7 linked regions of the Homo sapiens genome follow. The protein of the gene in region 3 interacts with the protein of the main gene of each other region in a pairwise test. Each region holds a gene or a part of one and is shown on either strand. Other genes may lie near its edges. The genes, in order: SUDS3, SYNPO2L, GOLGA2, UBE3C, ITPKB, PSMA4 and EFCAB6.

The links.
Region 1: the proteins of GOLGA2 (region 3) and SUDS3 interact in binary tests that used the Homo sapiens proteins (3 or more experiments, as listed by UniProt).
Region 2: the proteins of GOLGA2 (region 3) and SYNPO2L interact in binary tests that used the Homo sapiens proteins (3 or more experiments, as listed by UniProt).
Region 4: the proteins of GOLGA2 (region 3) and UBE3C interact in binary tests that used the Homo sapiens proteins (3 or more experiments, as listed by UniProt).
Region 5: the proteins of GOLGA2 (region 3) and ITPKB interact in binary tests that used the Homo sapiens proteins (3 or more experiments, as listed by UniProt).
Region 6: the proteins of GOLGA2 (region 3) and PSMA4 interact in binary tests that used the Homo sapiens proteins (3 or more experiments, as listed by UniProt).
Region 7: the proteins of GOLGA2 (region 3) and EFCAB6 interact in binary tests that used the Homo sapiens proteins (3 or more experiments, as listed by UniProt).

Annotation. Positions count from the first base shown.
Region 1 is NC_000012.12:118,407,555-118,411,054, forward strand, and holds part of SUDS3 (sin3 histone deacetylase corepressor complex component SDS3), read left to right. Parts: intron 1-3,500.
Region 2 is NC_000010.11:73,653,230-73,657,184, reverse strand, and holds the start of SYNPO2L (synaptopodin 2-like protein), read left to right. Parts: upstream 1-1,155; 5' UTR 1,156-1,262; coding exon 1,263-1,367; intron 1,368-2,878; exon of another isoform or gene 2,879-2,904; coding exon 2,905-3,056; exon of another isoform or gene 3,057-3,146; intron 3,147-3,531; coding exon 3,532-3,955. UniProt on the Homo sapiens protein: Actin-associated protein that may play a role in modulating actin-based shape.
Region 3 is NC_000009.12:128,262,508-128,266,007, reverse strand, and holds part of GOLGA2 (golgin subfamily A member 2), read left to right. Parts: coding exon 1-38; intron 39-126; coding exon 127-220; intron 221-316; coding exon 317-423; intron 424-2,915; coding exon 2,916-2,974; intron 2,975-3,303; coding exon 3,304-3,445; intron 3,446-3,500. UniProt on the Homo sapiens protein: Peripheral membrane component of the cis-Golgi stack that acts as a membrane skeleton that maintains the structure of the Golgi apparatus, and as a vesicle thether that facilitates vesicle fusion to the Golgi membrane.
Region 4 is NC_000007.14:157,145,426-157,148,925, reverse strand, and holds part of UBE3C (ubiquitin-protein ligase E3C), read right to left. Parts: intron 1-3,500. UniProt on the Homo sapiens protein: E3 ubiquitin-protein ligase that specifically catalyzes 'Lys-29'- and 'Lys-48'-linked polyubiquitin chains.
Region 5 is NC_000001.11:226,631,283-226,634,782, forward strand, and holds the end of ITPKB (inositol-trisphosphate 3-kinase B), read right to left. Parts: coding exon 3,389-3,500; 3' UTR 408-3,388; downstream 1-407. UniProt on the Homo sapiens protein: Catalyzes the phosphorylation of 1D-myo-inositol 1,4,5-trisphosphate (InsP3) into 1D-myo-inositol 1,3,4,5-tetrakisphosphate and participates to the regulation of calcium homeostasis.
Region 6 is NC_000015.10:78,546,944-78,550,443, forward strand, and holds part of PSMA4 (proteasome subunit alpha type-4), read left to right. Parts: intron 1-1,846; coding exon 1,847-2,001; 3' UTR 2,002-3,500. UniProt on the Homo sapiens protein: Component of the 20S core proteasome complex involved in the proteolytic degradation of most intracellular proteins. This complex plays numerous essential roles within the cell by associating with different regulatory particles.
Region 7 is NC_000022.11:43,529,306-43,532,805, reverse strand, and holds part of EFCAB6 (EF-hand calcium-binding domain-containing protein 6), read left to right. Parts: intron 1-1,841; coding exon 1,842-1,991; coding exon of another isoform or gene 1,992-2,249; intron 2,250-3,500. UniProt on the Homo sapiens protein: Negatively regulates the androgen receptor by recruiting histone deacetylase complex, and protein DJ-1 antagonizes this inhibition by abrogation of this complex.

The sequences.
Region 1 (3,500 bases), on a different chromosome or scaffold from region 3:
AGTTGAATTTCTTGGGTTTGGGTTCTAAGTACCACTGAAGGAAAATACAATGCATCTCATGAGAATTGTTGGAATAGCCTTCCAGAGTCAGCTGTTTTCTTTAAAAGACCTTTGTGAGGATATGATACATGGATACACATGTAACATGTATATGTGTTATTTTTGGTTTTTTTTTTTTTTTTGAGACAGAGTCTCGCTCTGTCGCCCAGGCTGGAGTGCAGTGGCGCAATCTTGGCTCACTGCAGACTCCGCCTCCCAGGTTCAAGCGATTCTCCTACCTCAGCCTCCTGAGTAGCTGGGACTACAGGCACACGCCAATATGCCTGGCTAATTTTTTGTATTTTATTTATTTATTTATATTTTTTGAGACAGAGTCTCGCACTGTCACCCAGGCTGGAGTGCAGTGGCGCCATCTCAGCTCACTGCAACCTCCGCCTCCCGAGTTCAAGCTGTTCTCTCCCTCAGCCTCCCAAGTAGCTGGGACTACAGGCACCCGCCACCACGCCCAGCTAATTTTTGTATTTTTAGTACAGACGGGGTTTCACCATGTTCGCCAGGATGGCCTCTATCTCCTGACCTCGTGATATACCCGCCTCGGCCTCCCAAAGTGCTGGGATTACAGGCGTAAGCCACTACGCCTGGCCAATTTTTTGTATTTTAGTAGAGACGGGGTTTCACCTTGTTGCCCAGGCTGGTCTCGAACCCCTGAGCTCAGGCAATCCACCCACCTTGGCCTCCCAAAGTGCTAGGATTACAAGCATGAGCCACCATACCTGGCCAGTTTTTTTTTTTTTTTTGAGACAGAGTCTCGTTCTTCCAGCCAGGCTGGAGTGCAGTGGCATGATCTCAGCCCACTGCAGTCCCTGCCTCCTGGGTTCAAGCAATTCTTGTGCTTCAGCCTCCCGAGTACCTGGGATTACAAGCGCACACCACCATGCTGGCTAATTTTTGTAATTTTAGTAGAGATGGGGGTTTCACCATGTTGGTCGGGCTGGTCTTGAACTCCTGACCTCAAGTGATCCACCCACCTCGGCCTCCCGCAGTGCTGGGATTACAGGCGTGAGCCACTGCACCCAGCTGTAACATGTGTATGTTTTATCATAAACACAGGAACATAGTTGACATAGTTTTTTTTGGTTTTTTTTTTTTTACCTACCAGTATATGGAGCATGTTTCCACACTCGTAATATTCTACACCACATCCATGACCTTTCTTTATTAAAGTGTTTAGAAAGTTGTATCAGAATGACTTGAGGGTAGTTGCATTTTGTTTTGTGTCTTTATCTCTTTAATAACTTACAGTCCCTTTAGAACAACTGTGAGTATTCTCCCTCTGTATTTTTATTTTAACCATTACTCAAGACATGACTGTTTACATAGGAGAGCTGGCTCAGATGTGAGAGAGAAACAAGGGGAAGTGTTAGTGTTAGTATGAACTTAGCCTTTTCTTATGCATTGTACAGTTCGGCCCTTGTGATAATACATATTTAGCATAATGAAGGTCCCCTGCCAGTTTACCAACTAATAAAGGGCCAAAAGCAACTTTAAAACTTGCATTTAAACCATTCTCGCTGTTCTAATTGAATTTAAAATTCTTTTTTTTTTTTTTTTAAGATAGAGTCTCGCTCTGTTGCTCAGGCTGGAGTGCAGTGGCATGATCTTGGCTTGCTGCAAGCTCCGCCTCCGGGGTCAAGCAATTCTCCTGCCTCAGCCTCCCGAGTAGCTGGGATTACAGGAGCCTGCCACCACTCCCGGCTAATTTTTGTGTTTTTAGTAGAGATGGGGTTTCACCATGTTGGCCAGGCTGGTCTCGATCTCCTGACCTTGTGATCTGCCCACCTTGGCCTCCCAAAGTGCTGGGATTACAGGCGTGAGCCACCACGCCCGGCCTAAAATTCTGTTTCTTTTAACAGTATTTTCAGAAAGTACATTGACTTGGAAACCTGAGTTTTCAGTTCATAAGTAGCAGGTTAAAGAGAATTGAGACCCTAGACTGGAAAAAGCTCATTATGGGAGTGAAGTGCATCCTTTACTTGCCATGTCTTGGCAATAGGTTATTTCCTTATACCAGCAAAACAGAATAAGCCATCATGCTTTGCTGGGAGATGTGTTTTACTAAATTTACACGAGTTTATGGGTCTGGTTAGCCAGATCTTTGCAGCCAAAATGAACCAAAGTTTATGTTATTAATCGACGTGGGGCTGGCCCAGGCCAGGGTTGCTAGCTGCAGCTCCGCTGATACTTCCAACTCTTGTAATCCAGCAGGGGCTCCTTCATCCTGTGGCAGCTGCTTTTGTCCCATTTGGGCTTTGGCCCCCAGCAACTTCACTTTCATCCTTGGCCTTGTCTCTGAACTTGTAGAAATAAGAAGTGGCCCTACACTACAGGTTGAGAGTAGATGCAGGAGTTGAAAGGGGAGTGTCTGTCTTATCTACTGTATTCAAAGCAGCTTTCCCAACTGTCCAGGCCAAATTAGATACCCTTTGGTATACGTCATGGCACTTGGAACTTTGCCTGATTAGCTGTTACCAGGTGTGGTTATTTAATGTTCCTTATCCCCAGTGTATTTGAATCTCTGTGATAGTGGAGAACTTGTGGCCTTTCTCACTGTTTGTCCCCAGCCTCCAGCATAGTCCGTGGTACACAGTAAGTGCTTAATGAGTATTTTTGAATGACTGACTAAAGGGTTAAAGTCAGCCTTCCTTCTTGTTGGTGACTGACTTGGACAAATAGAAAATAAATAACGGTGGCTTATGCCTGTATATTTTGTCTGTCCAACCTTCTTCAGTGTTCTGGTGTGGGGTCAGAAAGGGGAAACAGAGTTTTTATTTAACAATTTTTAATTTACTTTTTGAACTGGGTCATATAGTCCAAAAAAAGGGAAAAATACATAGTTTTCCAACACTTTCCTCAGCCTTTTCCCTTCTGTAGAGGGACCAAGGAATATAAGCTTTAGATCCCAAAGAAGATTAGGTGGTCTTCTAACCTAAGGATGGAAGCCTTTATTTATTTATTTATTTATTTATTTTATTTATTTATTTATTTATTTATTTATTTTTTGAGATGGAGTCTTGCTCTGTCGCCCAGGCTGGAGTGCAGTGGCGCCATCTCGGCTCACTGCAAGCTCCGCCTCCCGGGTTCACACCATTCTCCTGCCTCAGCCTCCCAAGTAGCTGGGACTATAGGCACCTGCCACCATGCCCGGCTACTTTTTTTGTATTTTTAGTAGAGACGGGGTTTTACCGTGTTAGCCAGGATGGTCTTGATCTCCTGACCTTGTGATCCGCCTGCCTCGGCCTCCCAAAGTGCTGGGATTACAGGCTTGAGCCACCGCGCCTGGCCTCAGGATGGAAGCCTTTAAATTAAGCTAAATGGGAAATCCAGGCTATTCCTCAAATGTGAATTATTAAGACTTCTTTAATTATAATTTTTGTTGTGATGGTGTTTTTGTTTTGTTTGGTTTTTACTTCCTGTCTCTGTCCCTCCCTTTTTAAAAATGT
Region 2 (3,955 bases), on a different chromosome or scaffold from region 3:
GCATACACTAGGTGGGCAGCTATTTTATGAAACTCTGTAGCCTTTGATAATCACAGTTATAGCACCATAATGTTATGCCTTGTAACAGAGACATTCTCGTAATGGAAACCTAGAGACAAGTAGAGATTGTATTAACATGGGTTGGTATGTTTATGCACACCTACACACCTTTCCATGACCACGTATGTATTGCAATAGGTAATTTGTTTTTTTATAGTTTTTTGTTTGTTTGTTTGTTTTTTTTTTTTTTTTGAGACGGAGTCTCGCTCTGTCACCCAGGCTGGAGTGCAGTGGCACGACCTCGGCTCACCACAAGCTCTGCCTCGCGGGTTCACGCCATTCTCCTGCCTCAGCCTCCAGAGTAGCTGGGACTACAGGCGTCTGCCACCAAGCCCAGCTAATTTTTTGTATTTGTAGTAGAGACGGGGTTTCCTCGTGTTAGCCAGGATGGTCTCAATCTCCTGACCTCGTGATCCGCCCACCTTGGTCCCAAAGTGCTGGGTTTACAGGTGTGAGCCACCGTGCCCAGCCTATAGTTTTTTGGTTTTTTTTTTTAACTTTTTTTAATAATAAGAAAATAGAGATGGGGGGCCATCTCACGATGTTGCCCAGGCTGGTCTCAAATTCCTGGACTCAAGCAATCCACCCACCTTGGCCTCCCAAAGTGCTAGGATTACAGGCGTGAGCCACCATGCCTGGCCCACCATTTATTAATTAACAGATAAATTTATATAGCGAGAGTGCATTCTTTCCTGGGATCTTGGAGCAAGCCCAGCCATTCTTTGCCAGCTATGGAATTGAAGCCCCTGCTGCTGCCACTTTGAAAGGGTCTTTGGAGGAAAGCAGTTGAGATTAGCCCATGGTCCTATTAGAGAAGGCACAGTTCCTGAAAGGGTGTACATTGGTTATAGAGCCCAGAGAGTTTGTATTCTGAGTCCTGAATAAAAGGCCCATGCAGGAGAATTGGGAACATGGAGGGCAGAAGTTTGTACTATAATTAGCTCTAGGAGTAACACAGAAGGGGGAGGGAGGGGAGTACAAGCGGCATCTATTTTGAGCACATCTGCGATTGACGGGACATGTGTGCTGGACTGTAATGATCCCAGGGCCAAGTTGCCTGCCTGTGGTGTGTGGTGTGGGGGGGAGGCCTGGGGCAGCAGGAGCAGGACAGCCGGACAGGAAGCCCAGACGGGGTTCGAGCACCTCAACTTCTCTCCTGGGGACACTGTTCAAACTCCGGGGGCCATAGGCCAAGCTGAGCGATGGGTGCTGAGGAGGAGGTGCTGGTCACACTATCAGGGGGAGCCCCCTGGGGCTTCCGACTTCATGGGGGGGCCGAGCAGAGGAAACCGTTACAGGTGTCTAAGGTAAGGGAGAGCCCCTGAAATGAGGCTTCAGGGAAAGGGAACCCAAGGGATCCTGGGAAGAGATGTGTGGTGGCATATGGCGGGGGTTGGGGGGGTGGGAGGCTGTGAAGATGGGGTGGGTGGTGGGCAGGGAAGTATGCTCAAGTCTCATAGTGGGAGTAGCGTCTGACCACAGGCTTCCTGTGGGGGTCTATTAGAAAAGAGAATTCGCGGTTTCCAGGGAGCAGAGGAAAAGGAAAGGCTCTGCTTCAGTTCCCTGCAGCACTGTGGTATCAGAGGCCCAGCTCTGGTCATCCAGTGTTTGTTCTCTTGGGTATGTGCCTCTACTCCAAACTCCAGAAATACGGGGAAGGTTCTAATTTCTCTCTGACTAAACTGATATGTGATGAACTGAAACTGCCTCGAACAGCCTAGCCCAGCCCAGCCCTACCCTGCCTCACCCTGCCCTGCCCATGCCTTCAGTGCTCTTTCCCTAGGTCAGATCCTTTCTCTCACTAGGCAAGACTTTTTTAGGTGCTAGGAGGGTTATGGCAAGATCTGGCCTCACAGATGAAGTCATTATCCTTTTGGTTTCACCCTACAGGCTTAGTTTTCCGAACTGTAAAATGTGGGTAATAATAGTACCTGTACCTACTTCATGGAACCATTCTAAGGATTAAATGCAATAATACATGTAGCACAGTGCCCAACACTTAGTAAGAACTCAATAAATGGTAGCCACTACTACTATTATTACTTTGGCATATATACATTTGTGTGTATACATGGCACACATATACCCAAATAATCACAATCTCCCAGAATACCGCTGGACTCCCTCCAACCTGGAGTACTGTTCTAAAATCTTGACTGTGTAATGGCGCCTGGGGTTACAAGGCCTAGTAGAGAATTACCAGCCAATATAGATATTGCCCTTGGAGAAAAAGCTTGTGGAGATAATCACCATTTCTTTCCGTTTTTTTTCTTTTCTTTTTTTTTGCGACAGAGTCTTACTCTGTTGCCCAGGCTGGAGTGCAGTGACATGATGGCTCACTGCAACCTCTGCTTCCTGGGTTCAAGCAATTCTCCTGCCTCAGCCTCCCAAGTATCTGGGATTACAGGCGCACACCACCACGGCCAGCTGATTTTTGTACTTTTAGTAGAGACAGCGTTTCACCCATTGGCCAGGCTGGTCTCAAACTCCTGATCTCAAGTGATCCACCCACCTAGGCCTCCCAAAGCACTGGGCTTACAGGCGTGAGCCACTGCACCCAGCCAATAACCACCATTTCTAGTTACCTACCCCATGCAGTTCTTCCCAAGCCTCTTTCATTCAATGGTTACCCTATTTCCCACCATATGATGTATTTCTTTCTCCAGTCTGTATACTTTCTTCCCTCTAGACAGGCCACTTCAACTGCAGCCACTTCCATGCATCTCCCCACCCTTCTTACCCTGCAAAGTAAAATCCCCTCCTGTGGGTCCTTCCCATCTTTTCCTTTCATTCTATTCCCTTTGGAGCCCCCTCTTACCTACAGTGTCTCCTTCAACATCTCAGATTCGAAGACGGAGCCAGGCTGGCAGAGCAGGACTCCGAGAGAGGGACCAGCTCTTGGCAATCAATGGGGTCTCTTGCACCAACCTCTCCCATGCCAGTGCCATGAGCCTCATCGATGCCTCAGGAAATCAGCTTGTCCTCACTGTGCAGCGGTATGGACCTCTCTCCTCTTCTCTTCCCCTAATCCAGGGCTCCCATTGCCTGTCTCAGCTCTATGTCTCACTGGCCTGGCTTTAGCAACTAACAGGTACCTATTTCTGCTCGTGCGTTTCTGCTGGAGTGCAGATGGTTTGTGTCTGCCTCCCAGAGGGCTTGAATGTATCTGCAATTAAGGGATGGGGATGTCAGTGGGTATTTGACTGATGAGCCTACTTCAACCCCTGGCCTGTTTCCTCCTCATTACATCTTCCTCTAAGCCTATTTCCACTCACAGCCCTTCAAGCACATTTGCCTCCCAGTTTGTCTTCATATCTCCACTCTTCCCGGCCCACCCATTCCAACTGTATGACAGCCTTCTCTCTCCCTTACCTCTTCCCTCCCCCTTACCTCTTCCCTCCATCCCTTCCAGATCTCTCTAGCTGTCAGTACCCAGCCCATCTCTCAAGCTCTGTCATCTTTCCTATCCAGGTTAGCAGACGAGGGTCCTGTGCAATCTCCATCTCCCCATGAGCTTCAGGTGCTGTCACCCTTATCTCCACTAAGTCCTGAGCCCCCTGGTGCTCCAGTTCCTCAGCCTCTTCAGCCTGGGAGCCTTCGTTCACCTCCTGATAGTGAGGCTTACTACGGAGAGACTGACAGTGATGCTGATGGCCCTGCCACCCAGGAGAAGCCCCGTCGACCTCGCCGCCGAGGCCCCACAAGGCCCACCCCTCCGGGTGCCCCACCTGATGAGGTCTACCTGTCTGACAGCCCTGCAGAGCCAGCACCTACTATCCCTGGCCCTCCCAGCCAGGGTGACAGCCGTGTGAGCTCCCCGTCTTGGGAGGATGGGGCAGCCCTTCAGCCACCCCCAGCTGAGGCTCTGCTGTTACCCCATGGCCCCCTCCGACCT
Region 3 (3,500 bases):
GCCACCAAAAGCAGGGAGCCCTAAGGGAGCAGTTACAGGTGAGTGGAGGGTGTGAAGTTCCGTCCTGTCCTCTGGAGAATGTTTCTTTCCTTCTTTTTCAGCACTTGCTTGGGTTTCCTCCCAAAGGTTCACATTCAGACCATAGGGATCCTCGTATCAGAGAAAGCTGAGTTACAGACAGCCCTGGCTCACACTCAGCATGCTGCCAGGCAGAAAGAAGGTGGGAATCTGGGCACCCCATCATCCTTCAACCTGGCACTTTGACAGGCCTTTAGGGGGAGTCCTTTGGGCCCCATCTCAACCTCTCTCATTCCAGGAGAGTCTGAAGATCTGGCCAGCCGCCTGCAGTATTCCCGGCGGCGTGTGGGAGAGTTGGAGCGGGCTCTCTCTGCTGTCTCCACGCAGCAGAAGAAGGCAGACAGGGTGAGTCCAACTGCCTGCCCCGTCCCCTGGCATACTGGCTTCCCAGATGGAGGAGTGAGCCTAAAGGTCCCTTCTGCAGGGTTGACTGTCCTGCCTAGAAGGCAGCATGGGCCATTTATCACTGCTTTTGTGTGTGGTTGCTAGAGGCATCCTGGGGCTGAGTCAGCTGCTGTGGGTGAGTTTGGGGGCACTGTGGGGAGTGAACACTGGACGCAGAGCTCGGAGGCCAAGTGCCCGCTGTGCCGTTACCTGGCTGTGGCCTTGGTCAAGTCCTAGGTGGGGGAATATGGTACTTGTACTGTGAAGGTACAGAAGAGTATCTTTAGTATGTTACCATTTGTGTAGAGAGAGGGAACGTGTGTGTGTATGTGTACCTATGTACTATGACAATATACATAAAACGTGTCTGCATGGATTCATAACAAACTCAGGAGAGAGGAACAGCACGGCTGGAAGATATTTCCCTTCTGCCCTTTCGGAGTTTTGGACTATCTGAATATATCATCCTTTCAAAAACTGAACAAAAGATAATTTCCCCCTTCCTATTTGTGCCCCCACCCTCGGGGAACAAATGAGCTTAGAGAGTCAGATATACCTGGGTGTTCAAATCCGAGCTCTGTCTAAGTGATCTTAGGCAAGCACTTAACCTCTAATATTCCGTGTTGTCCATCTACAAAATAGAGGTAATAATAGTAACTGTCTCATGTGGTGGTTATGAGGATTAAATGGGATTGTTAGCATGGTGCCTGGTGAAGCATTCAATAAAGGTTCAAACAGTGGTAGTAATAATGATAATAACAATAGCAATATTATCTGATCTCTCTGGGCCTCTGTTAGCCAGCTGTAAATTCGATCTTGGCCAGGTGTGGTGGCTCATGCCTGTAATCCCAGCACTTTGGGAGGCCGAGGCAGGTGGGTCAACTGAGGTCAGGAGTTCGAGACCAGCCTGACCAACATAGCAAAACCCTGTGTCTACTAAAAATGCAAAAAATTAGCCAGGTGTGGTGGCGTGCCCCTGTAATTGCAGCTACTTGGGAGGCTGAGGCAGGAGAATTGCTTGAACCCGGGGGCGGAAGTTGCGGTGAGCTGAGATCGTGCCACTGCCCTCCAGCCTGGGTGACAGAGGGAGACTCTGTCTGAAAATAAATAAATAAATAAATAAATAAATAAATAATAACAAAAATTAGCCAGGCATGATGGCGCATGCCTGTAATCCTAGGTACTCAGGAGCCTGAGGCAGGAGAATCACATGAACCCGGGAGGCAGAGGTTGCAGTGAGCCAAGATGGCGCCACTGCACTCCAGCCTGGGTGACAGATGGAGACTCCATCTCAAATAAATACATATATACATACATACGTACATACATAAATTCGCTCTCTCTCCCTGTTCCTTCCACCCTTACCAAGTCCTTTTTTTTTGAGACGGAGTCTCACTCTGTTGCCCAGGCTGGAGTGCAGTGGCACCATCTCGGCTCACTGCAAGCTCTGTCTCCCGGGTTCATGCCATTCTCCTGCCTCAGCCTCCCGAGTAGCTGGGACTACAGGCACCTGCCACCACGCCTGGCTAATTTTTTGTATTTTTTTTTTTTTTAGTAGAGATGGGGTTTCACCGTGTTAGCCAGGATGGTCTCGATCCCCTGATCTCGTAATCCGTCCCCCTCGGCCTCCCAAAGTGCCAGGATTACAGGCGTGAGCCACCGCACCCGGCCACCCTTACCAAGTTTTTTTAAAAACAAATGAGACCAGCCGGGTGCCGTAATCCCAACACTTTGGGAAGTTGAGGCGGGCGGATCACTTGAGGTCAGGAGTCAAGACCAGCCTGGCCAACATGTTGAAACCCCCTCTCTATTAAAAATAAAAAAATTAGGCCAGGCATGGTGGCTCACGCCTGTAATCCCAGCACTTTGGGAGGCTGAGACGGGCGGATCACAAGGTCAGGAGATCGAGACCATCCTTGCTAACACAGTGAAACCTCGTCTCTACTAAAAATACAAAAAAATTAGCCGGGTGTGGTGGCGGGGGCCTGTAGTCCCAGCTACTTAGGAGGCTGAAGCAGGAGAATGGCATGAACCCGGGAGGCGGAGCTTGCAGTGAGCCGAAATTGCGCCACTGCACTCCAGCCTGGGCAACAGAGACTCCATCTCAGAAAAAACAAAACAAAACAAATTAGCCGGACATGGTGGTGCACGCCTATAGTCCCAGCTACTCAGGAGGCTGAGGCAGGAGAGTCACTTGGACCAGGGAGGCAGAGGTTGTGAGCTGAGATCTCACCACTGCACTTCAGCCTGGGTGACAGAGGGAGACTCTGTCTCAAAAACAACAACAGCAACAACAAAATGAGACCATGGGCTTGGAAATGCCTTGAAAACATGTCAAGTGTGATTGAGAGTGAGGAAGTGTTACTGTGGAGTACTTACTGTAGCTGTTGTTACTGGTTGGCCAGCTGCTCCTCTGCCTGCTATATCCTGACTTAACCTTTCTGTATTTACAGTACAACAAGGAGTTAACCAAAGAGAGAGACGCCCTCAGGCTGGAGTTATACAAGAACACGTAGGATGGGGGATGGTGGGATGGGAGGTCTGGGGGCCCTCAGCATGGGTGGTGTGCTGGGAGGTGGGGGGTACAGGTAAGCATGATGAGGTAGTCATAGAGGTGTGCATGTGTGCCCAGCAAAGCTCTAGTGCCAGCTGTGCCACTGACTCATGGTGTAGCCTTGGGTAACTCGTATCTTTTCTCTGGCCTGTACATGTGACTTTTGATTCCTGGGGTTCCTTCCAGTGCCACAGTTCTGTGGTTGTGGGGCAAGGGTAGAGGGTGGATCACCAAAGCAGTCCTTTCTGTTCTTCGTTCATTCCTTTCTCTACTGCCTCTGGCCATAGCCAAAGCAATGAGGACCTGAAGCAAGAGAAATCAGAATTGGAAGAGAAGCTTCGGGTCCTAGTGACTGAGAAGGCTGGCATGCAGCTTAACTTGGAAGAATTGCAAAAGAAGTTAGAGATGACGGAACTCCTGCTTCAACAGGCAAGAGGCTGCAGCCCCATGGGTGGTGGGAGCGCCATCCAGCTGGGGCCATGGT
Region 4 (3,500 bases), on a different chromosome or scaffold from region 3:
TCAGAGCCAGGCTGGGGTTGGGTAGTGGCAAGCCTGGAGTTCCAGCTCCTCAGGAGGCTGAGGCAGGAGAATCGCTGGAGATCAGGAGTTTGAGGCTGCTGTGCACTATGATCATGCCTGTGAATAGCTACTGCACTCCAGCCTGGGCGACACAGTGAGGCCCTGTCTCTTAAAGGAAAAAAAAAAAAAAAAAAGAACTAATTTGATCTTAGAAAATATTTTGACTTTATTTGATGCCAGATCTGTAAGAAAAAGTTTTTATGTTCCACTACAATGTATATGGAGCATTATACTATCACATCCATTACACCTCTGCTTTTTAAAACAAAATAGCACAAAACATTTTAAGTTAAAATATTCTAGGTAATCCCTTCAATTATATAATAGAGGGCAGTTTTACAAAACTAGGTAATCCCTTCAATTATATAATAGAGGGCAGTTTTACAAAACTAAGCAATCAAGTTCTTACCATCTTAACAGTCTAGACCTATCATAGGGGAGGAATTAAAACTAGAGTAATTGAGGCCAAGCATGGTGGCTCACACCTGTAATCCCAGCACATTGGGAAGCTGAGGTGGGCAGATCACTTGAGGCCAGGAGTTCAAGGCCAGTATGGACAACATGGCGAAACCCCATCTCTACTAAAAATACAAAAAAATTAGCCAGGCCTGGTGGTGGGCGCCTGTAAGCCCAGCTACTTGGGAGGCTGAGACAGGAGAATCACTTGAATTCGGGAGATGGAGGTGGCAGTGAGATCGCACCACTGTACTCCAGGCACTCCAGCCTAGGCGACAGAGGGAGACTCTGTCTCAAAAAAACAAAATAAAACAAAAAAACTATAGTAATTGGTTTTGGTAGGCCCTAGAGTATCCTCATTCCATAAGGCCAGTATCACCCTAATACCAAACCAGACAAAGACATCACAAAAACACCCTAAATTGATGTCCCTCATCAAAAGAGATGCAAAAATCCTGAACAAAATATCAACAAGCTCAATCTAACATCGTATACAAAGAATTATGCATCACAGTCAAGTGGGATTTATTCCAGATACGCAAGACGGGCTCAATATTCTAAAATGACTTAATGTGATCCATCATATCCACAAGCTGCAGAAGGAAAATCACATAACATTAACAGATACAGAAAAAGCATCTGACAAAACCCAACCTTCATTCATGATAAAATTCTGCAAACTAGGAATAGAGGGGAATTTCCCCAATTTGATAAAGAATATCTACCAAAAAACCCACCAAACATCATACTTCATGATGAGAAACTCAAAGCTTTCCCACTAAGATTAAGAACAAGGCAAGTTCTCACCACTCCTTTTCAACTATAATCCTACCTAATGCAGTAAGACAATAAAACACATTGCTTTCTGATGGTCTTAGAAAAGAAAAAAGAAAAAAAAGGCATACAGATCAGGAAGGAAGAAATAAAACTGTCTTTGGTTGCAAATGAAATGATTATCTGTGCAGGAAATTCCAAGTATCAACCAAAAAACCACTCCTGGAACTAAGAAGTGATTATAGCAAGATTTCAGGACATAAGGTTAGTACATGAAAGTCAATTGCTTCTCTACAAATAAGCAATGAACTGGAATTTGAAACTGAAACACAATACCATTCACATTAGCACCCCTTAAAAATAAACGCTTAGGTATAAATCTAACAAAATAGGTATAAGGTATATATAAGGAAAATTATATAACCAATGAAAGAAATAAAAGAACTAAACAAATTAAGAGATATTCCATATTCATGGATAGGAAGGCTCAACACTGTCAAGATTTTAGTTTTTCCCAACTTGATCTACCAATTCAGCACAATCCCAATCAAAATTCCACAGGTTTTTTTTGTGAATATCAACAAACTGACTCTTATGGAGAGGCAAAAGATCCACAATAGCCAACACAATACTAAAGAAGAAGGAAGTCGAAGGACTCACACTACCAGACTTCAATGCTTACTATGGTTGGGCGCGGTGTCTCACTCCCGTAACCCCAGCACTTTGGGAGGCTGAGGCAGGCGGATCACTTCAGGTCAGGAGTTCAAGACCAGCCTGGCCAACATGGTGAAATCCAGTTTCTACTAAAAATACAAAAATTAACCAGGTGTGGTGGCACATGCCCACCCAGCTACTCAGGATGCTGAGGCAGAAGAACCACTTGAACCCAGAAGGCAGAGTTTGCAGTGAGCCGAGGTCACAACACTGCACTCCAGCCTGGGCAACAGGAGGCTCCCTCTCAAATTAAAAAAAAGTTTAGTTTAATATATATACTAAGTAGTACAGTTTACTACAGATCTGTTACAGTAATCAAGATGGTATGGTATTGACAAAAGGGAGAGAGATCAATGGAGGAGAGAATAAAGCCATAACAGAGCTTAGAAACAGATCGTAAAGGCCGGACGCAGGGGCTCATGCCTGTAATCCCAGCACTTTGGGACGCCCAGGCGGGCAGATCACGAGGTCAGGAGTTCGAGACCAGCCTGACCAACATGGTGAAACCCCCGTCTGTACTAGAGTAGCCAGGTGTGGTGGTGCACACCTGTAATCCTAGCTACTCGGTAGGCTGAGGCCGGAGAACTGCTTGACAGAGGTTGCAGTGAGCCGAGATTGCGCCACTGCACTCCAGCCTGGGAGACAGAGCGAGACTTCGTCTCAAAAAAAAAAAAGAAATAGATCCATAAAAATATAGCCAACTGATCTTTGACAAAGGAGCAAAGGCAGGCATTCAATGGAGTTGGGGAATGTCTTTTCAGAAATGGTGCTAACTGGACATCCACAAACAAAAAAACTTCAAAAATTAAAAATCTAGACACAGATTTTATATCCTTCACATAAATTAACTCAAAATGGATCAGAGACCTAAATGTAAAATACAAAATTATAAAACTACTAGAAAATACGAGAAAATCTAGGTTACCTTGGCTTTGGTAATGACTTTTTAGACACAACGCGAGAAGCAAGATCCATGAAAAAAACACTGGTGAGCTGGACTTCATTAAAATTCAATAGTTCTCCAATGTCACAAATGTACCACACAGATACAAGATGTAAATAACAAAGGAAACAGCGTGCAGCGGAGAGGAGGTTTTGAGGACTCTATTATAGTTTCCCATCAATTATTCTGTAAACCGTAAACCACTCTAAAAAAAAAGCTTATTAATTGATAAAAAATAAAGTAAAAAGAAATGAACTGTCAAGCCATGAAAAGAGCCTTAAATGCATAGTACTAAGTGAAAGAAACCAATCTGAAAAGATTACATAGTATATGATTCCAACTATATGACATTCTGGAAAAGGCTAGAGTAGAAACAGTAAAAAGATCAGTGGTTGCCAGGTGTTACAGGGATGGGAGGGATGGATGAATATGCAATGAGGATTTCTTCCTTTTTTCTTTTTTAAAAGAGTATCACTCTCGTCACCTAGGCTGGAGTGCAATGGCGTGATCTCAGCTAACTGCAATCTCTGCCTCTCGGGTTCAAGCAATTCTC
Region 5 (3,500 bases), on a different chromosome or scaffold from region 3:
GTTGCTTCATTTAAACCTCAGTTTCCTCATCTGTAAAACAGACTATAAATCTTTGTTCAGGGAATTGATCTGGGTAAAACGGGAACTCCGATGGGCGTGTTCAGCCCCAGTCTAGCTTAGAGTAAGGCCCCAGAAGCGATCGCTGCACCGGAGACCCCCCTACTTGGGGACAGTGCTTCTTGGTTGATGTTCTAGTCTCTGAGCTACTATTTCAAAGTTTCATGAGGGTTGAAAAGACTCATTTTGGAGAGTGGTTTATATTCTTTACAAATTAAAATGTTACCCAGTCTGACACCCACTCCCCTAACAGCCCCCATGTGGGCCCTCTAGCTTCCTAAGACTCCCCAGCCTGCCCCTCAGCCAGGTCTCAGGGCTGGGGGCCAGAAGGATCACACCACAGACAGCGCTGGTCTCCAAGGCTTTATTCAGGAAGGTTTGCATCTGTTTGACAGGCACTGTGCAGGGGTTTGTAACAGTTCAGTTTTCTCCAAGGTCCCATGGGGAGAGGGGTGCAGAACAGGAAGAGAGCCTCTCGGCAGGCGGGGGGGGTCCTCTCCTCCAGAACAAAAGGCACTGACGAGGTGACCACCCCAGAGCCAGGGGCTGGGTTATATACACATGGGGTGGACAGATGCAGAGAAACTCAAAGCTAAATACAACTGAAGGATGAAAGAGTCCATCTTACAGGGCCAGGGCTGCTTCTGGGCTCTTTCTACCAAGTGGGAAAGGAAGTTCAAAACAAAGGCAAAGCTTTCAAGGAGAAACAAGAGTCCAGCCTTTCGGTCTTAGTGTTCTGTGCAATTTTAAAACCCAACAAAATAAATATAACTTAAAAATGTCTTACATGACACTAAAGGCAAGCCTGGGAAAAGCAAGCAGTTGAAGAAACCTTCCGAGAATGCTAAGCAGTGCTGAATGCCAGGAACTCGTGGGGCCCCCCGCAGGACAGGGCAAGAGGACCCTGCGCCCATTCACCTGGGCACAGGTACACAGAGTTTGTCCTGCCTGCTGGCACATGCACTGCCAGGACCCAAGGAGTCCCTGTGGTGACGAGGGCTGGGCAGGCACGGTCTTCCAGGCTGCCAGGGCAGGGGTTCTGGGAGATTCCATTTCACAATCCATCTATCCCACTGAGACAAAGGGAAGGGCCAGATGGCAGGGAAGCGAGTGGCAAAATGGCTTGAGAGACAGAGTAGGTGTAGAAGAGAACTAGCACGGTAAATACAAAAAAAGAGAAAAAAAAAACAGAAAACAAAAACCCTAAGTAACAGAATAACCCTAAAATGATGCTACTTCATACTATGTTCACATATTTAATGTAACCCACAGCCAAGTATTGCCAATAAGAGGCCCCATGGGCCTCCTTTAATAAGCACATCATTTGCATATTAGCACATTGTTTGCAAACAGCTGGTGTCTGCCTAAAGTGCTTGGAACATTTTGTTCTCTTAAACAGGTCCCCTGTAATTTTTGTTCATATCATGATTTGCTTTAGCAAACTTCTTTCACAGATGGAGTAAGGATAACTTTTGGCCAGTCCATATTCATAGAATCTTTACGTCTGAATTAATGATGCCCCTGCCCTGCAAATGGCTGAAGCACAGACCACCAGGGTCCCTTCTAGCCCAAAAGTCACTATAGCTCCAGAGGCCCAGAGTTGACTTTGGCTCCCCAACGCCCCCGTCCTGCCTGCCTTCCAGATCACATGCTGCCACGAGGTCTCTCGTGCTCCACCGGGCGCGTGTGTGACCTTTAGCAAGTCGGCCCACACAGGAGCTCACCACTGTTTTAAACAAGAGCCAGGAAGTGTAAGTTGATTTCCTTTTTTAAAATCTGTACTTATACATCCTCATGTGTCCCACCCTCCACCCCCAGCAAGTGTCACTCACACTTCCAGCACAAAAGGGGAAATGTACATGTCCCGTGGGCAGGTTGACAGTTCCCCAGAGACCCCGGGGTGGTGGGGTGGGCAGTGGTTCCTCCAGACACACACACCTTGGTCCATAGTCTCCCTCTGTGTCCCTAGCTCCTGGACTCTCCCAGCTCCTGTACCTCTGACAGCAAAGGAGTGGGTGGCAAGCCCCAAGGAGCATGGGGCACAGAGCTGGGGGTTTTGTTCTTAAGAAGTCAGGCAAATTTTACATTCCCTTCCATATCAGACTCACTGGCTTTCAGTTAAAATTGGGCTTAAATAGGTTCTCCACGAATCTCCAAATGCAGAGACTTCAGGAAGAGGTGCCTGGAGCACGCCCTGGCATCCACCACATACCCTACAAGATACCCACACTACATTGGAGAAGCAGGAATCTAAGCCCTCCAGGCAGTAAGGCTTGTTTCAGAGGCAATAACAAATGATGCCAGGAGGCCACCGCGGCACCTCTGGAAGCCAGAAGCCTGCCTTCTTCCTGCCTGGCGCAGACCTGAGCTCCTCCCCTATTTCTATATCTGCAAGGGACTCTGGGCCCCATGACAGGAGCCCATGTATGCAGGCAGGGTTGACCAACTAGCACCAGGTAGGTGAGGGTCAAGAAAAATGTGCTCCTCCCTGGGGCCAGGGCCCAGAGACTCTATAGATCCCATCTTCCCCTGGTAGCACCCTTGGAGCTCAGCATGGCAGAGTGTGCCTTCTGAACTCATGGGTTGCAATTCCAAGTGGCACAGCTTCTGCTCGCCTCCTCTGGGAAGGCCTAGATCAGAGAACACAGCCAAGCTGGCTTCAGCCTTCTCTTGGCTCCTGGGTCTGGCCTGGAGCCGGCAGGTTTCCATACCAGATGGGTGGGGGGCCTTGCCTGAGCAGCCCTGGAGAGGCCACCAGGGCATCCCTGAGGCTGCTAATCGGAAGACACTTTGCTCACAGTCAACATGTGGTTCCCCGATGGTTTTGTGCCCCAACTACCAGAAAGCCCTGCTCCCAGCCAGGGACCAGGAACCCGGCCGGCCCCCTGGGCTCTCCGGTGGGGAGGCCCCGGCAGAAATAAGGCTGTGCTTGGCAGCACTCTAACAGCACTGGCCGCCAGGGGGCAGCAGGCCTCCGCAGGTGGTAGGTCCAGGCTGGTGCTTCCTAGGGGGCTCCCAGAGGCAGGGCTCATCTGGTAGGGTCCCCTCAGCAGCCAGGGACCCCCTCCAGCTCTACACCTGACCCACCTCTAAGACTGGGCATTTCTCTTCTAGTAGGTGACCCTCTCTACAAAAAGCAGTGCAAACACCACCTCCAAGCCCTGAAGTTAGGAAAATGACTAGAAACTCTCATCTCCTCTTCTACAAAGTGTCTTGTAGTGCAGTTCAGGAGGGTCAGTCAGGTGTAAGTGAAGGAAAAGTTAGGAACGAGAAAGGAAGCACAGGAGGAGGAAAGGAGGCCCAGGCGGGGGCCAGGGAGGGCGTGGGCAGCTCAGGCGAGTGGGGCATCCTGGGACATCTCGGTCAGGATGTCGACGAGGTTATTGAGCCCCGAGAGGTAGCCATCCTCCCGGTTCCCCTCCTGCCAGGGGACGTCATGCTGC
Region 6 (3,500 bases), on a different chromosome or scaffold from region 3:
TTAGTAGAGACGGGGTTTCACCATGTTGGCCAGGCTAGTCATGACCTCCTGACCTCAGGTGATCCTCCCGCTTCAGCCTCTCAAAGTGCTGGGATTACAGGCGTGAGCCATTGCGCCCAGCCAGCAACTGTTAAGATTTTAACATGTCATCCTAGTTCATTGAAACAGCAACCTTACGAATTAGGTGATGTTATCCCTGTCTTCTAACTGAGGACACTAGGGCTTAATGAGGTTAAGTGAGTTGACCAAGATCAACATTGGTAAATTGTGGAGTCACAATCTCACACTGTATTCCAAACTTAAAGGCTTGATACTGAACAATCTCATTACTCACAGATAGACATCCTGCACTGTGCTACTTTTAGTTAACAGTTATCAAGTCTTCTCATCAATGATATCTTTGCTTGTGTGTATATATGATAAAGCATACGTATGTAGTTATATATTTATACATAGGTTTGGTATACTTTACCAGAGATACAACATTTGCGTGGGTTGTGATACCCTCTCCTGTTCTTCTTAATCTACTAATCTCTTATTTTAAGCTCATGTTAGCAATTCCAAATACCTTGTTCAACTTAAGCTATATGACTATATAAAAGAATATTTCAGTCGAGCTTGGTGGCTCATGCCTGTAATCCCAGCACTTTGGGAGGCTGAGGTGGGTGGATCACCTGAGGCCAGGAGTTCCAGATCAGCCTGGCCAACATGGTGAAGCCCCATCTCTACTTAAAATACAAAAATTAGCTAGGCATGGTGGTGCATGCCTATAAATCCCAGCTACTTGGGAGGCTGAGGCAGGAGAATCACTTGAACCTGGGAAGCGGAGGCTGCAGTGAGTTGAGATCATGCCACTGCACTCCAGCGTGGGTGACAGAGAGAGACTCTGTCTCAAAAAAAAAAAGAATATTTCTAAATGTTTTTCAGAAATTGTGGTAAATTAACATGTTGCTTTATGTTAGGACAGTTTAGCTCCTGGTGTTCCTTAGAAAATGCCATTTACGGCCGGGCATATTGGCTCACGCCTGTAATCCCCAGCACTTTGGGAGGCCGAGGTGGGTGGATCACCTGAGGTCAGGAGTTCAAGACCAGGTTGGCCAACATGGTGAAACCCCTGCCTCTACTAAAAATACAAAAAATTAGCCGGGCGTGGTGGTGCGCACCTGTAATCCTGCTACTCAGGAGGCTGAAACAGGAGAATCACCTGAACCCAGGAGGTGGAGGTTGCAGTGAGCCGAGTTTGCGCCATTGCACTCCAGCCTGGGCAACAAGAGCAAAACTCCATCTCAAAAAAAAAAAGAAAAAGAAAATGTCATTTACATGCAGATTGCCCTCTTTTGTCTACTTCCACCCAGTTTCAAGGAAGCACTACTCAGTTTCCCTGGTACAAAAAAATTCCTTCCCCTTTAGGTATCAGTCTGCTTTTCTTGGCCATTTCATGCCTTTTATTTATTTATTTTTTTAAGAGACTTGAAAAGTCCATAAAAAATAAGCTGTTATTACCAGTTGAAGATTCTGGCTGAGCCCTCAGAGGTTCCAACAGTTCCGTCTAATCAGCACAGCTAATAGCAGGCCGGCAATAGCAATTGGTTGATTATACTTTTTCTAAGGGAGTGACAAAATGGCTGAGGAGACGATATTTAAGTAAAAATTATAATTAAAACATTACAAGATCAAAAGTATATTGTTCTCATAAAAGGGAATAATGTTAAGTATAAAACATAGGAGAGTGCTGAACTAACGTTTCAATGATGTGGCGAGCATAAACCATGAGTGCCTATTAAGCTTCTCTGCTAAGTATGCCTGCCTGCCTGCAATACAAATAAATGTATGTGTTTGTTTTTAGTGGAAATTGCAACACTAACAAGAGAGAATGGAAAGACAGTAATCAGAGTTCTCAAACAAAAAGAAGTGGAGCAGTTGATCAAAAAACATGAGGAAGAAGAAGCCAAAGCTGAGCGTGAGAAGAAAGAAAAAGAACAGAAAGAAAAGGATAAATAGAATCAGAGATTTTATTACTCATTTGGGGCACCATTTCAGTGTAAAAGCAGTCCTACTCTTCCACACTAGGAAGGCTTTACTTTTTTTAACTGGTGCAGTGGGAAAATAGGACATTACATACTGAATTGGGTCCTTGTCATTTCTGTCCAATTGAATACTTTATTGTAACGATGATGGTTACCCTTCATGGACGTCTTAATCTTCCACACACATCCCCTTTTTTTGGAATAAAATTTGGAAAATGGAAATGAAGGAATAAATTCTCTGTAGCAGTAATTGTTAAATATACAAAAACTGACAGGGCGATTACTTTTTGCACATTGTGGCTTACAGTCCTTTCACAAAGATGGGCACGTTCCTCAGGCTGGCCAGATTATTCGTCTCTGTCTGCAGGAATTGGTTTGAGAATGAACACGTGAGCTGAACAAAGCCAGAATTGATGTGTGGGTGTGGATCTCGCAGCTAGGACTGAGGCTGCCCACAGGCAGCAGCTCAAGCTGCGCGGAAGATGAGGTGTAGAAGTTAAGGCCACAGAGGAAAAGTGGAACCAAGAGATGAGAACAGTTACGTGTTGGCTGAAGGGAGCTCTGTTGCTGGGGTTTGTTCAACCTGAGTTCCCTTGGCTATCTGTGGCTTCATGACAGAAGTGATACAGGGCAGTGGTACTTAATGCGTAGCCATGGTGCTTTAGCATCACCTATGCAGATTCTGATGTCCCATCCCAGATCTACTGAATTAAAATCTCTGAGGGTGAAACCCAGTAATCTGTTCTAACAAGCTCTGCATGTGATTCTTAGGAATGCTAAGTAAAACTTTAAGAAGTTTTTGTTGCATATTAGAATCACCTAGGAAGCTTTTGCAGCTTGTAAGCATGCTGTATCGATTAACTCAAGCTCTGTGGTGGAACCCAGATATTAACATTGCTTAAACTCTTCAGGTGATTTCCATCAGCTAGGGTGAGTGCATTGAGCCATCATTTACCCTTCTCTCAGCTGTTGTCAACCAAATATGTGCTCCCAGTCTAATTTCTCATTGTAGATTTTCTTAATGCAGCTCCCTGCAGTTTTCTGTATAGGCTAAAGTATTTACAAGCCCTATTTGCAGCACTTTTTTGAACTTCTAAATTATTCTCTTACTCTGTACAGCAGGTTCTCGTTATTTTTGGTAGTTATGTTCTAAAGTCACCACAAAAACTAACAAAATACTGAACTCTTGCACCTAGAGAAAGTACTGGGTTAGGGTCCTACAAGCCACTGGTCACATTTTTATCAACTGATCAGTACATAACCTGTTTTTTGTGTATTTCTACTTAAAGACACCTTTTTAAATGTGTATTGTGGATTCATTAACATAGAACTCAGCCAACAGCTCTTTACGTGAATGTTTTTGTTTTGTTTTGTTTTTTGAGACTGGGTCTTGCTCTGTCACCCAGGCTGGAGTGCAGTGGCGTGATCATATTTCACTGCAGGCTCAAACGGTCTTCCTGCCTTGACCTCCCA
Region 7 (3,500 bases), on a different chromosome or scaffold from region 3:
CCACCCAAGGGCCACACCTGCCTGGGCCACAGTGGTGAGACTCTAGGGAATGGAGAGTGGGTTAAGCCAGCCACAGTTAAGTAGATGCCATGCAGAAAGTTTCTTCACAGCTAGTTTTGCAATTTTGTGCAAAATCAGGTTCCATCTTAGCCTAGCTTCTAGTTTAGACAAACAGGAGCTAGTATCAAAAGCTTAGACCAAGTTTACAATAAAAAAAAAAAAAAAGACTTTAGACAGTTCTGCCAGCTCAGTTCTTCTGTGCACAGAGAAAAGACTGTCCCCATTCCATCTTCACGGGAGCCACGAACGTGGAGAACATGGAGACACGTGGCAGCAAGGCCGCCATCAATTCCATCCTTCCTCCGCCTCCCTGGGCCTCAGTTTCTCCTTCTGGAGATCTGTGGAGGCTCTAAGACCTTGCTAGGACGTGCACGGGCTTCTGCGGAAGAGCACACCAGTGCCGCCTTCTGAGCCCTCCCCAGTGAAAGGGGCCACCCCAGTTCCCAGCTTCCAGCTGCACTGTCCGTCCTCAGCAACCCCGCAAAGCTGGGGTCAGAGTGGGGTCATGCTAGGTGCTGCGGGTCAGCCCACAGAGACTGTGGCACTCTCCCCCCGCCCCTCCCAAGGCACCACTCTGTGGTTCCGAAGAGTTCTCCCGCCCCCACTCCTCAAATCCCTGCACCAGACCGGAGTGGATTGAGATTGAAGGCTTTTCAGGAGAGAGTAGGCTCCTGACATGGTCCTGGTCACAGCCCTTGTCCCATCTGGCAGCTGCCAAGGCCACCACCATGTAAGTGTGGAGGTCAGGTCAAATGTCTCCCTGCAGAGGAGCTAAAAAGGGGACTTCATTTTCTGGTGATTTGGGAGCTTTCTCCACCCCATTAGGCAGCAGAAAGATGTCCTCGGGGGAAGGCAGCTTGGGTGCCGCCCCTCCCTGCAAGGTGGGTCAGAGGTGGGGGCTCTGGCCGGGCTGGTGGTCCTGCCCTGTGATGTGTGGTGTGGGAGGTCATGTGAGCCCCACACCCTCTCTTCCCCACCTGTGGATCAGCTGATTGGGCAAATTGGCAGCTCATGAAGTCTTGGGTACCTGGGGAGCACACATCATACGTGCCAAATGATGTAAAAAAAAAATGAAAGCAGCTTAACCCTGTGCTCATCTGTCTTACATAGTGTTATGTTAAAATTCAACTTTCCCAAGATGTGTTACGCATTGTTGCCTACCGTTCACCTTTGTGATATTCAAACACATTGGGGCTAAATCATGTTCAAATGTCTTGTTTTCAATCTAATAGCACCTAAATGAAGTAATCACAGTGTAGTGTTCTAATTACTAGATATAATTACAACCTTGTGAATTTTTTTTAACACTGTTCATTATAATAACTTACTAGAAAACACAGACTGAAATCTCTTTTTTTCCTCAAACTATTTTCAAATTGGCCCATATCTGCCCGGCCATCTCGTTGCATTCCCTGGGAGGTGGTGTGGCCTGAAGTGTGTTGGGGTCAAAGCCCAAGTCACTTTACCTCCCCGAGTCTCCACTTCCTAATCTGTGAAGTGGGGATAGAGACCTGCCTTCTTTCCGGGTTGCCAGTGGGGAGGTGTAAATGAGATGGCTGATGTAATACACGTTTTTAAACAGCCCACACAATGGTCAGGGGGCGGGTGCGCATCTTTGTGACGAGTTCTGGCAGGCTCCCTCCTCGATTCAGAGCCAGCGGAGCAGGTTGGGAGGTGAAGCCGGAGCAGGGCTGGGCGAGGCGGGGGCGAGGCGAGGAGGAGCCCACCCCAACCCTCGTGTTCAAAAGCTCCCTCCTCACCCCTTCTTGTCTTGTGTCTAGAAAGAAGCCGGCGCGGAGACGCCATCTTTTTACTCTGCTCTGCTGCGTATTCAGCCCAAAATTGTGCACTGCTGGAGGCCAATGCGGCGCACGTTCAAAAGCTATGATGAGGCTGGAACAGGGCTGCTAAGCGTCGCAGATTTCAGGACGGTGAGCACAGCTCTGCGCCCAGTGCCTCTGCAGGGAGCAGCTGCCAAATGCCAGCGGCCAGAAACTTCCCACGGGGAGCCCTCTACCTGCTGCCGAAGGCCCGGTGTGACCTGGCTGCTTCAGATCTCACTTCCCTGGGACCCCCAAGTTATCCAGTCCTGGGTCCACTCGCCTCACCTTCAGACCCCGGGTTCTCCTTCCCAAAGGTTGCTGGAGCCCTGCGTGGATGCCCCATACCTGCATCGCCAGCTCCTCAGGGTCAGTGCCTGAGCCCAGGTTCCTTAAGGCACTGCCATCACTGCTGCTGCTGCTCCGAGCCCTCTCCCCACACCTGGGCTCTCCTGCAGGCTCTGAAGAGCATCTCTGACCTATGTTGGACCTTCCAAGGGGCCTGCAAAGTGAGCCCTGCCCCTGCAGTACACAGCGGGGCTCCACCATTGGGCATCTGCCCTGATGTCCCTGGGTGCCCTCCATGTCCCACCCCCAGAGCCTAACAAACACCCCGCAGTGGTTTTCCAATCCACATTCACGTTCCTCTTTCCTTCGGGGTTAAGTATAAATCTCAGTCAGGGATTCTCCCTATCCCTCATGCAAAGAAAGGAAGGAAGTAGGGCAGGTTCTGTTATTCCCTTCCGGCAACTTCCCAGGAATTCGGGCGTGGTGCTGGGAAGGTGGCAAAAGAAACCTTGCCCTCCACAGAGTCACAGATCAGATGGCGTAATTGAGGGGCCGTCTCAGACACCAGGCTCAGCTTCCTTTTCTGCCTTCATCCCATGGGGCCCAATGGCCAGGCCTGCTGACCTCAGCCCCATAGGACCTCTGGGCCATCTAGCCCTGCTTTCCAGTCTCCTCCTAGAAACAAGTTATAACGCAAATGTGGATAGGAAATGTATGGCCTCATCTTTATATACTATGAGGGTCTGTCAGGATTTGTTTCAGCTTCACATAATGGGGCGGGGAAAATAGCAGCTTAAGGTGAAAGTTTATTTCACTCCCACATAAAAGAAGTCCAGAGGTAGGAAGGTCAGAGCTGGTGTGGTGGCTGGACAATCATCAGGGACCACATTTTTGCTCTGCTGTTCTCAACTCCTGGCTTCCTTCCTCTAGGCCACCTCATGATCCAAGGTGGCTGCTGGAGCCCCAGCATCACAGCCATATTCCAGGCAGCAGGTGGAAAAACAGGAGAGAAAAGGGCATGCCCCTCTCCTTTAAAGGAGGCTTCCTGGATGTTCTACATAACATTCTTACTTAGCTTCTCAGGCCAGAACATACCTAGCTGCAAGAGAGGCTGAGACATGTTCCCGGTTAGCTGGATACAGAGGAGCTGGGAGAGAGTCAGGTTCTATAACTGAAGAGGAAGGGGCAGTCAGTATTGGGTTTACCACCAGCAGGCTCTGCTCCAGGCTCTGTTACGGTCTTATCACAGCAACTCTCTGCACTCAGCACCCACTGGCCCTGCCCTCCCCTGCCTGGGCGCACCCTGAGGCTCTGCCCCAAGTTAGGGCTGCA